3 linked regions of the Homo sapiens genome follow. The protein of the gene in region 3 binds, or shares a complex with, the protein of the main gene of each other region. Each region holds a gene or a part of one and is shown on either strand. Other genes may lie near its edges. The genes, in order: AAR2, PRPF3 and TXNL4A.

The links.
Region 1: TXNL4A (region 3) and AAR2 share a complex: the UniProt entries of both Homo sapiens proteins name them as parts of the U5 snRNP complex.
Region 2: TXNL4A (region 3) and PRPF3 share a complex: the UniProt entries of both Homo sapiens proteins name them as parts of the precatalytic spliceosome.

Annotation. Positions count from the first base shown.
Region 1 is NC_000020.11:36,239,414-36,243,064, reverse strand, and holds part of AAR2 (protein AAR2 homolog), read right to left. Parts: intron 3,245-3,651; 5' UTR 3,197-3,244; coding exon 2,440-3,196; intron 1-2,439. UniProt on the Homo sapiens protein: Component of the U5 snRNP complex that is required for spliceosome assembly and for pre-mRNA splicing.
Region 2 is NC_000001.11:150,327,921-150,331,571, reverse strand, and holds part of PRPF3 (U4/U6 small nuclear ribonucleoprotein Prp3), read right to left. Parts: intron 3,253-3,651; coding exon 3,106-3,252; intron 1,121-3,105; exon of another isoform or gene 1,074-1,120; intron 1-1,073. UniProt on the Homo sapiens protein: Plays a role in pre-mRNA splicing as component of the U4/U6-U5 tri-snRNP complex that is involved in spliceosome assembly, and as component of the precatalytic spliceosome (spliceosome B complex).
Region 3 is NC_000018.10:79,971,416-79,975,066, reverse strand, and holds part of TXNL4A (thioredoxin-like protein 4A), read left to right. Parts: intron 1-1,210; coding exon 1,211-1,382; 3' UTR 1,383-3,651. UniProt on the Homo sapiens protein: Plays a role in pre-mRNA splicing as component of the U5 snRNP and U4/U6-U5 tri-snRNP complexes that are involved in spliceosome assembly, and as component of the precatalytic spliceosome (spliceosome B complex).

The sequences.
Region 1 (3,651 bases), on a different chromosome or scaffold from region 3:
CTTGGGCAACACAGGGAGACCCTATCTCAACCAAAAATAATTAGCTGGGCGTGGTGGCACACACCTGAAGTCCCACCTACTTGGGAGGCTGAGGTGGGAGGCTCAGTTGAGCCCAGGAGGTTGAGGCTGCAGTGAGTTGTGATCATGCCACTGTACTCCAGCCCATGTCACAGAGTGAGACCTTGTCTCAAAAAAAAAAAAAAAAAAAAACCAACAAAGTTATTCCTGTAACAGACCTTTTCGCAAGATATATTTTGAAGAATTGAAATGTTTAAGAGGTAGAAAGACAGGATTTCTATTCATTTTTAAGCCAGACTTTTAAAAGTTACTTATTATACGAAAATACTAATGCATTAAGATGTACCTGTTAAAGGCTGGGTGCGGTGGCTCACGCCTGTAATTCCAGCACTTTGGGAGGCTGAGGCAGGTGGATCATGAGGTCAGGAGATCGAGACCATCCTGGCCAACATGGTGAAACCCTGTCTCTACTAAAAATACAAAACAAAATTAGCCGGGCGTGGTGGCGGGCGCCTGTAGTCCCAGCTACTCAGGAGGCTGAGGCAGGAGAATGGCGTGAACCCGGGAGGCGGAGCTTGCAGTGAGCCGAACTCACACCACTGCACTCCAGCCTGGGCGACAGAGCAAGACTCCGTCTCAACAACAACAACAACAACAACAACAACAACAACAACAACAACAAAAGATGTACCTGTTAAAATATAGGTTATATCATTAGCTGAGCCAATGATATAAAAAGTCCTGTCTAGGCACAGTAATCCCAGCACTTTGGGAAGCCGAGGCAGAAGGATCACTTGGGCCCGAGAGGTTGAGGTGGCAGTAAGACATGATTGTGTGACTGACTGTACTCCACCCTGGGCGACACAGCGAAACCCTGTCTCAAAAAAAAAAAAAAAAAAAAAAGAAGTCCTACATTCAAATTTCTCACTGAACTTCCAACAAGAAAATATGCAAATTACCTGGAAAATTTATAAATATATATAAAAATAGCTGTTCAAAATGTGACACATATTTGCTGTCACTAGTATTTAAGAAATAAAGAAATATAAACAAGGTGCCATTTTTCAGCTATCCAATTGGAAGAGGCCTTTGTTAAACTGTCATGCCCAATGCTGTCAAAGGTGATGGGCAACAGGTTCCTACCAGCCAGCAAGGATGCAAAAACCTTCTCCTGGCAACATGCACAGTCTGACCCAGCAATTCTATCCCTAAATGTATGTGTAAGTACACACGAGAATGTTCACTAGATGATATATGTATATATATTTTTGAGACGGCTCTTGTTGCCCAGGCTGGAGTGCAATGGCGAGGTCTTGGTTCACTGCGACCTCTGCCTCCTGGGTTCAAGTGATTCTCCTGCCTCAGCCTCCAGAGTAGCTGGGACTACAGGTGCACACCACCCAGCTAATTTTGTATTTTTAGTACAGATGGGGTTTCACCATGTTGGCCAGGCTGGTCTCGAACTCCTAACCTCAGGTGATCCCCACCGGCCTCAGCCTCCCAAAGTGCTGGGATTACAGGTGTGAGTCACCACACCCGGCCACTTGATGATACAATAGAGAAAACAGGGAGCATCTCAATGGTCCATAACAGAGAACTGGTCCAATAACTATGGAACATGAAACAGCCACTAAAAAAGTGACTGTTAGTGACATGAAAAAACATTTATATTAAGGCAGATTACAAAGTAATAATATACTTCAATCCTGTTTTTATAAAAACTCATATATATACAGACACATATACTGAATTTTTAAGACTGAGAGGAAGTACATAGAAATAAACAGAGAAGACATTGAAATGAAATACATAGAAATACACAGAAAAAAAGGAACGTAAATATACCAAACTGTTTAAATGGTTATTTCTAAGTAGTGAGATTTGAAGTAAATTTTGTTTTTCTTTTATGATTATTATCTATCATTTTTGTAATAAAAGGGAAGGTAACAATAAAAACTGTAATGATTAAAAAAAAAATCACTGTCCTGTTCTAAGCCAGTTGAGAGACCAACATCTTGAGGGTCAGGAGCAAACTGAGCAGGCAGGTGAGAGGCTACAACGAACACAGGTCTGGCCCAGAAACCAAGAGTCCTGGGTTCTCGTCTCAGTTCAGCCACTCAGTGGGCCAAATCTTTTCCTTCTGTAGGACTGGGCTCTATCAGTGGTTCCCAAACAGAAGATTATCTGCACCAGGTTCACCTAGGATGTTTGTTTATTAGACAGATAGAAACTGCGGAAGCCCCACTCCAGATCTCTCAAATCGAAATCTCCAGGGCTAAGGGTAAAGACACACCTGTATCTTCAGCCTCCTAGCCAGGTTTAGTTGCTGCTGGACTAACACAAGATGTACTCCCTATTCCAAAACACCTCTGCTAATATCCTCCCCTTGGCCCACTCCCAAAGAGCCTTGTTCCTTCTCACCAAGCACATCCTGGGGGCTGCTGGGGAACTGCTTGTTGAGCACAGTCTCCAGGGCATAGCTCAGGTCCATGCTGTGCTTGGTTATCTCAGCTGGCGTGGCACCCTCTGGGAACATCTGCGTGGGCAGCTCTGAGAAGCGGATCTCTGTCCCGGCTCTGGGCTTCATCTCTGGTAGCCGGGCCAGGCCCTCTTGGTAGCTTTTGCACTCAATGCCACAGCGGGGTAGATTCTGCCCCACGCGGTCCTTGGTGTGCTTCATGGAGAGCACAGGTAGCACATCGGAAAAGGCACAGATCTGTCGATTCTCGGGCTGTAGCTTCTCCACTGTGGCTTCGCTGATGAAGTTGGTGAGTGAGATCCACTTCTTCAGGGTGGCATATGGGTAAGGCCCCAGGAACTGGTCCAGCTCCTGGAGGTTGGCCCTCATGGCCTCCACCTCAGACTCTGGGGCTGGGGACAGGTCTACCTCTTCCCTGAGTGTGCTCCAGCGCAGCACTGTCAGCCCCCGCTGGTGCAGGCTAAGGAAGAAACCCATACGAGGGCCTACTTCCTTCGGATTAGCCTTGTCCACAGAGCTGTAGTGGAGGAAGTGGATGCCTGGAGGGATCATCTTCACGCCCCGGAACTTGGGCCCGACCTCCCAGGAGTTATAGTCAATCCCAAACTCTGTTCCCTTGGGCATGTTCAGGATGACCACAGTGGCCCCTTCAAAGAAGAGGCGCTTGGCTAGCTCAGGATCCATCTGCACGGCAGCCATGGGGCCAGTGGTGGGTGACCAAAAGAACCCTTTTTCTTTGATGAACAGCTGAGAAAGAAAGAAACCAGAGTTAATCAGAACGTGGGGGAAAGATGCTTCATTTGCTAAGCATTCTGTATGTGCCAGATATTGAGTTAGACCCCTGACATAATTATTTCCCTTAATCCTCATGACAACCCTGCATTGAGTTTACAGATGAGAAAAACGAGGATTAAAGGAAAGGATTTTTGTGTTTTGGCTTAACATGCAAGGACACTCACTTCACAGCTATAAGATACCAGTGAAAGAAAAGTGACATGCTCATGGTCATACCAGGACCCAAATTAGAATCTGGATACCCTGCCTGCAGGCCAGTGTTCTGTCCACCGTCCATTCTTAATATCTTCTCAGATCTCTTTCTCACAACAGAGGGTGAGGGTGGAAAATGCCTGGACAGGTCACTCTAAACTATATGC
Region 2 (3,651 bases), on a different chromosome or scaffold from region 3:
CTAACATGGTGAAACACCGTCTCTAGTAAAAATACAAAAATTAGCCGGGTGTGGTGGTGGGCGCCTGTAATGCCAGCTACTCAGGAGGCTGAGGCAGGAGAAGCGCTTGAATCCAGAAGGTGGAGGTTACAGTGAGCCAAGATCATGCCACTGCACTCCAGCCTGGACAACAGGGGGAGACTCCATCTCTAAATAAGTAAAGAAAGAAAGAAAATAAAAAAATTAAAAATTACAGGGCTGGGCGTGGTGGCTCACGCCTGTAATCCCAATACTTTGGGAGGCTGAGGCAGGTGGATCACGAGGTCAGGAGATCGAGACCATCCTGGCTAACAGGGTGAAACCCCATCTCTACTAAAAATACAAAAATTAGCTGGACATGGTGATGCACGTTCTGTAATCTCAGCTACTCAGGAGGCTGAGGCAGGAGAACTGCTGGAACCCAGGAGGCGGACGTTGCAGTGAGCTGAGATCACGGCATTGCACTCCAGCCTAGGCAACAGTGCAAGAGCGAGACTCCGTCTCAAAAAATAAAATAAAATAAAATGAAAAATTACAGGCTGGGCCTGGCAGCTCACGTCTGTAATCCCAGCACTTTGGGAGGCCGAGCCGGGCGGATCACGAGGTCAGGAGTTCGAGACCAGCCTGACCAACATGGTGAAACCCCGTCTCTACTAAACATACAAAAAAATTAGCTAGGCGTGGTGGCGCGTGCCTGTAATCCCAGCTACTCAAGGGACTGAGGCAGAAGAATAGCTTGAACCCGGGAGGCGGAGGTTGCAGTGAGCCGAGATAGCGCCATTACACTCCACTCTGGGCGACAGAGTGAGACTCCGTCTCAAAAAAAAAAAAGAAAGAAACATAACAAAAGGATATGTTGTGAATACGTCCATCCCCATTCTCCATAAAAAACATCATTGGGCCTGGCACGGTGGCTCATGCCTGTAATCCCAGCACTTTGGGAGGCCGAGGCGGGTGGATCACGAGGTCAGGAGATCAAGACCATCCTGGCTAACATGGTGAAACCCCATCTCTACTAAAAATACAAAAAATTAGTCGGGCATGGTGGTACATACCTGTAGTCCCAGCTACTCAGGAGGCTGAGGCAGGAGAATGGCGTGAACCCGGGAGGCAGAGGTTGCAGTGAGCCGAGAACGCGCCACCGTACTCCAGCCTAAGTGACAGAGCAAGACTCCATCCCCCACCCCCCAAAAAAGAAAATAATTGGCTGGGCGTGGTAGCTCACGCCTGTAAGTCCAGCACTTTGGGAGGCTGAGGCAGGAGGATCATTTCAGCCCAGGAGTTCAAGACCAGCCTGGGCAACATGGTGGAACTCAATCTTTAAAAAAAATACAAAAATCAGCCAGGCATGGTGACCTGTAGTCCCAGCTACTTGGGAAGCCAAGGTGGGAGGATCACTCAAGCCCGGGAGGCAGAGGTTGCAGTAAGCCAAGATCTCGCCACTGAACTCCAGCCTGGACAAAAAAGTGAGACCTTGCCTGAAAAACAAAAACAGGCTAGGTACGGTGGCTCACGCCTATAATCCCAGCAATTTGGGAGGCCAAGGTAGGCAGATCACTTGAGGTCAGGAGTTCCAGACCAGCCTGGTCAACATGGTGAAACCCTGTCTCTACTAAAAATACAAAAATTAGCCGTGCGTGGTGGCACATGCCTATAATCCCAGCTACTTAGGAGGCTGAGGCAGGAGAATCACTTGAACCTGGGAGGCAGAGGCTGCAGTGAACCGAGATCGCACCACTGCGCTCCAGCCTGAGTGACAGAGAGAACATCTCACACACACACACAAAAAAAATCCATTTCTTTCCTTCTGTAAATATCACATATATGCAAATCCACCCACCCATATTTCTGTATATGTTCTATTACCCCCCTCAAATATTAAATGGTAAAAGAAACACTTATGTGGTATTATTTAACAATGCCAATTGAAAAAACACAAATACTTCCTGTTAAAAAAAAATAAAGTCAACTTAAAATTATTTATCAGTGGATTATATCTTCTTTGCATTATGTTTGGAGAGTCTCCTCTGTCATTAAGATGAGTTCTGATCATTTCATTTAATTTTCTCAATGACTCAACGACATAGGTAATTAGGCAAATAATGTACATAACACACTTTGCTTGCCACAGTAAATGGCAATTTCAATACCCTTACCTAGAATACTCCTGGTCAAATCAAAGAACGCTAAAACATAAAGCAGGAAATAAAATTTTCCCAAATGCTGGCCTGGCATGGTGGCTCACACCTGTAATCCCAGCCATTTGGGCGGCTGAGGTGGCAGATCACTTGAGGCCAGGAGTTCCAGAGCAGCCTGGCCAACATGACAAAATACCATCTGTACTAAAAATACAAAAATTAGCCAGGCGTAGTGGTGTTCGCATGTAGTCCCAGCTACTCCGGAGGCTTAGGCAGGAGAATCGCTTGAACCTGGGAGGTGGAGGTTGCCGTGAGCTGAGATCACGCCACTACACTCCAGCATGGGCAACAGAGTGAAACTCTATCTCAAAAAAAAAAGTTTACCCCAAATGCTAAACACTAATTCAAATCAAGATCACAATAAGGCGAGGCACGCTGGCTCACGCCTATAATCCCAGCACTCTGGGAGGCGAAGGTGGGCAGATGACCTGAGGTCAGAAGTTGAAGACCAGCCTGCCCAACATGGTGAAACCCTGTCTCTACTAAAAGAAATACAAAAAATTAGCCGGGCGCAGTGGCTCGCTCCTGTAATTCTAGCACTCTGAGAGGCCAAGGTGAGTGCATCACCTGACATCAGGAGTTCAAGACCAGCCTGGCCAACATGGTGAAACCCCATCTCTACTAAAAATACAAAAATTAGCCAGGCTTGGTGGTGGGTGCCTCTAATCCCAGCTACTCAGTAGGCTGAGACAGGAGATTTGCTTGAACCCGGGAGGCGGAGGTTGCAGTGAGCTGAGATCGCGCCACTGTATTCCAGCCTGGGTGACAAGAGCAAAACTCCACCTCAAAAAAAAAAAAAAAAAAAAAATTCCACAATAAATACAGACCCATGCACCTTTTGCTTCTTCAACTCACAAAACCACTTTGCTTCCAGTCCCTAATCACTAACCTGGAGCTTAGTCAGCATGCCAGGGCTCTCTGATGGAGGCCCAGGGATCACCTCTGGCTCTTCTTCCACCTCCTCAAAACGGGGTATTCGTCGCTTCTTTACTCCTGATGATTCTTTAGAGATCTCAGAGTCATCACCAAACACCTCCTAAGGGAACCCAAGATGAAAGAAAAGCTGTATCCCTCCCCGTGGGGAGAAGGGAAGAATTATCCTAGCCCCTACCAGCATTTTCTGGCTATTCCCAGGGGAATATGACACAACCTTGCAAATAGCCACCTGCCAGAAGCAGGGTCTACTAGACTCTCCATCTCACCCAACTTCAACATTCTCCTAATCCAGTCAAACAAATTTCATTCCCATGTTCTTATAAATGTTCCCATCTCAAGGTCTTTGCAAATGCTACTGCTCACATTTATAATGATTTCTCTCAACTTTTCCACAACCCCTGTTCCAAATCCTGCCTAAAACTCACCTCCTCCAAGAAGTTTTCCTCATTATAACCTATCCCACTCTGATTAAACTTTTGTTTCACATTCTCTTAGCGTG
Region 3 (3,651 bases):
GCTGCATGTAGGGCCTGCCTGCAGCATGGAGAATGAGAGGGCGGCCAGAGGTGGGCTCCAGACCCTGATCAGATTTGCCTCTCCTGAACCAGAGACTTCACGGGGAATACTTTCTACGGAATAGTAGGTGGAAGCCAAATGCATGATCTTGTGGAAGTGAACGTTAAAAAACAGTCTTTAGGTGGGGTATGCCTGCAGCCCAGCCACTCTGCAGGCCGGGGTGGGACTGGAGCTAGGGGTTTGAGTCCGGCCTTAGCAACATAGCTCGCATCTCTAAGAAAAATAATCAGGCCGGCACAGTGGCTCACGTTTGTAATCCCAGCACTTTGGGAGGCCGAGGTGGGAGGATCACTTGAGGCCATGAGTTTGAGACCAGCCTGGCCAACATGGGGACACCCCATCTTTACAAAAAACTAGAAATTTATCTGGGTGTGGTGGCTCGTGCCTGTGGTCCCAGTTACTTAGAGGGCTGAGGTGGGAGGATCATTTGGGCCAGGAGGTTGATTTTGCCACTATGCCCTAGCCTAGATGACAGTGAGACCCCATCTCAAAAAGAAACTTCAACAAACCAGGATAAATTTATGCCAGTACAACAAAGGGTTAATATCCTTATCTTGTAAAGTGCACATGAGTATTCATGAGGAAAAGAACTAGTCTCTTGAAAGATAAGTAAAGAATTATCTACTTCCCTAACCATAAACATGCAAAATGTCATCTTCATTTCATAGTTGAAGGGCTTTTAATACAATTTATGTCATTGCTCATAAGAGCACTGTGAAAAACTTACACATTGCTTTTATCAGGTAAATTAGTACAAATTAGATGGGGGTCTCATTTTGTTATCCATGTTGATCTCGGACTCCGGGCCTCAAGTGATCCTCCTGCCTCAGCCTCCCATAGAGTTGGGATTACAGGCATGAGCCACTGCGCCTGCCCTCCTTTGACCTTTTAATTTCCCCTTAGAATAACTGTCCTAAATAAATACAGAAAAATGCAGGAAAGAGCATGGTGGACAATGCATTGCATCTTTAAAAACACATTTAGCTGCTTCCTGTATTCTCCTGCATCATGGCATACACTCTCGATTTTATGCGTTCTTCAGTGATGTTAACAAGAGCTTGTCACAGTGGGAAAAATACGGCATTGTTTTCAAGGAATTCTTTTTTAAAGAGACTTCTATGAGAATGGATGCCCTTGTTTCTCGTTGCAGGAACAAGCACATCATGATTGACTTGGGGACTGGCAACAACAACAAGATTAACTGGGCCATGGAGGACAAGCAGGAGATGGTGGACATCATCGAGACGGTGTACCGCGGGGCCCGCAAAGGCCGCGGCCTGGTGGTGTCCCCCAAGGACTACTCCACCAAGTACCGCTACTGAGGCGCCCTCAGTCTGCGCGGATAAATGTCGTGGAGCCCTTTTTGTATGGAAACGTTTTAAGCTATTTAAAGCCTTTGGAAAATACAGGAAGCTCCAGGGCTGGAGCACCTCTGAGATGGAATTGATAACATGGTCTTAACTCACCGAAATAAACAAGCACGTGGTGAGAGGAGCAGGCCTACTTGTTTGTTCTCAGGAAACTTAATGAATAGATTACTGATTTTCCTAGTCAAAGTTAATTCTTACCCTTGGAGTAAAACGAAGGTGTTTATCCTGTGAGCCTGTGCGTTTTGCATACTGGGTTGGTTTGCTGGGGCTGCGGTGACAGCATATGCCGCGAGCTGGGCTTTAACAGAGATGTGTGCTCTCACAGCTTTGCAGGCGGGGGTCTGAGATCAGGGTGTCGCGGGTGGGGGGTCACTGCTGAGGCCGTGAGGGGAATCTGCTCAGGCCTGTCCCTGGCTTCTGGGGGCTGCTGGTGGTATTTTCAGTTCCTTGGTGTGTGGATACTTCGCCCCATCTCTGCCTTCACCTGTGTCCTCCCTGTGTGGGTGCTGGTGTCCAAAATTTCCCCTTTTCGTAGTGACACCAGCTGTGTTGGATTGGGGCCCACCCTGCTCCAGCATGGCCTAATCTTAACTAATTACATTTGCAAGGATCTTATGTCCACAAAAGTCACAGTCTGAGGTGCTGGGGGTTAGGACTTCAATATATAAATTTTGCGGTTACACAATTCAATCCATGACAGAATCCAAAGGTTTACTCTGGTTATAAAAACAGTACAATAAAATATTGTTTATAGCCTTCCCTGTAAGGAATAGGAGAGCTATTTTTTATTCTTCCCAAGATTGTATTTGATGTAAACATATTTTCTGTAGAAGCCATGGCCCTTCAGTTCATATAGTTAGAAAATTTCCTTATTGGCCAGGCACGGTGGCTCACACCTGTAATCCCAGCACTTTGGGAGGCCGAGGTGGGCAGATCACGAAGTCAGGTGTTCGAGACCAGCCTGGCCAACATGGTGAAATCCCGTCTCTACTAAAAATACAAAAATTAGCTGGGCATGGTGGCGCGTGCCTGTAATCCCAGCTACTTGGAAGGCTGAGGCAGGAGAATTGCTTGAACCCGGGAGGTGGAGGTTTCAGTGAGCCGAGATCACACCACTGCACTCCAGCCTGGGCAACAGAGCAAGACTCCGTCTCAAAAAAAGAAAAGAAAATGTCCTTATTACAGTCTCAGGTTTCTCTTGCCCTCTGTCATCCTAGCAGTGTGGATGGTTGGTTGGGATCTTCGTGTCCCGTCTCAGCACACTCGAGCTCTGAAGTGAAAGTGAGGAAGGGCAGGGATGGGGGCACTTGAGCACACCGTGGGCCCTCTGACCTCAGACCCAGGCTCTGCCCCACCAAGTGACCTTGGGCAGGGTACCTTCTCTGAGCTTTGTTTCCTCCTTGGTAAAGGCGGATAATAGTGTCTGCCCTGCACACAGATGTGGACGCAGAAGCACGTGGTGCCTGCCGGGCACAGGAGTGGTGCACAGGGCTCGCTGCTGTCGGGAGATTGATTGCTGTTGTGGAAACGGGAGGGTACTTACAGAATGAAGCACATTTTTTACATACAGTACAAATGAGTGTGTGCTTTTTAAATGGATTTAAAATTCAAATGCAAATCTGCAGTTTAATCTCCCAAGTGCTGATTTTTCTATGTATAAAGTAGGAGAGTGCAACAGCGTATCGGAATGAGGGGCTAGGGAGAACGTGTATGTGACCTCGAGTACCTGGCATGTAACAGACACTCAGTATTACACTCCTGCTATTTCTCCAGAGCAGGTGAAACAGACGGCCAGGAAGCACACGAAGAGACACTCAGCATCACTGCTTGTTAAGGAAGGTGCAAATCAAAACCACAGTGAGACGCCACTTCACACCTACAAGTTCGGCTAGATACAAAAAGATCGCAACAAGCGTTTGCAAGGATGTGGAGAAATTGGAGCCCTCACACACTGCTGGTGGCAAAGTGGTAACACAGGCAGGCAGGTCGTCAAAAAGTTAAACATGGGCCGGGTGCAGGTGTCTCAAGCCTGTAATCCCAGCACTTTGGAAGGCTGAGACAGGCAGATTGCTTGAGCCCAGGAGTTCACGACCAGCCTGGGCAACCTGGTGAGACCCTGTCTCTACAAAAAATACAGAACAATTAGCTGGGCATGGTGGTGCGTGCCTGTGGGCCCAGCTACTCGGCGGGCTGAGGCAGGAGGATCACTTAAGCCCCAGAG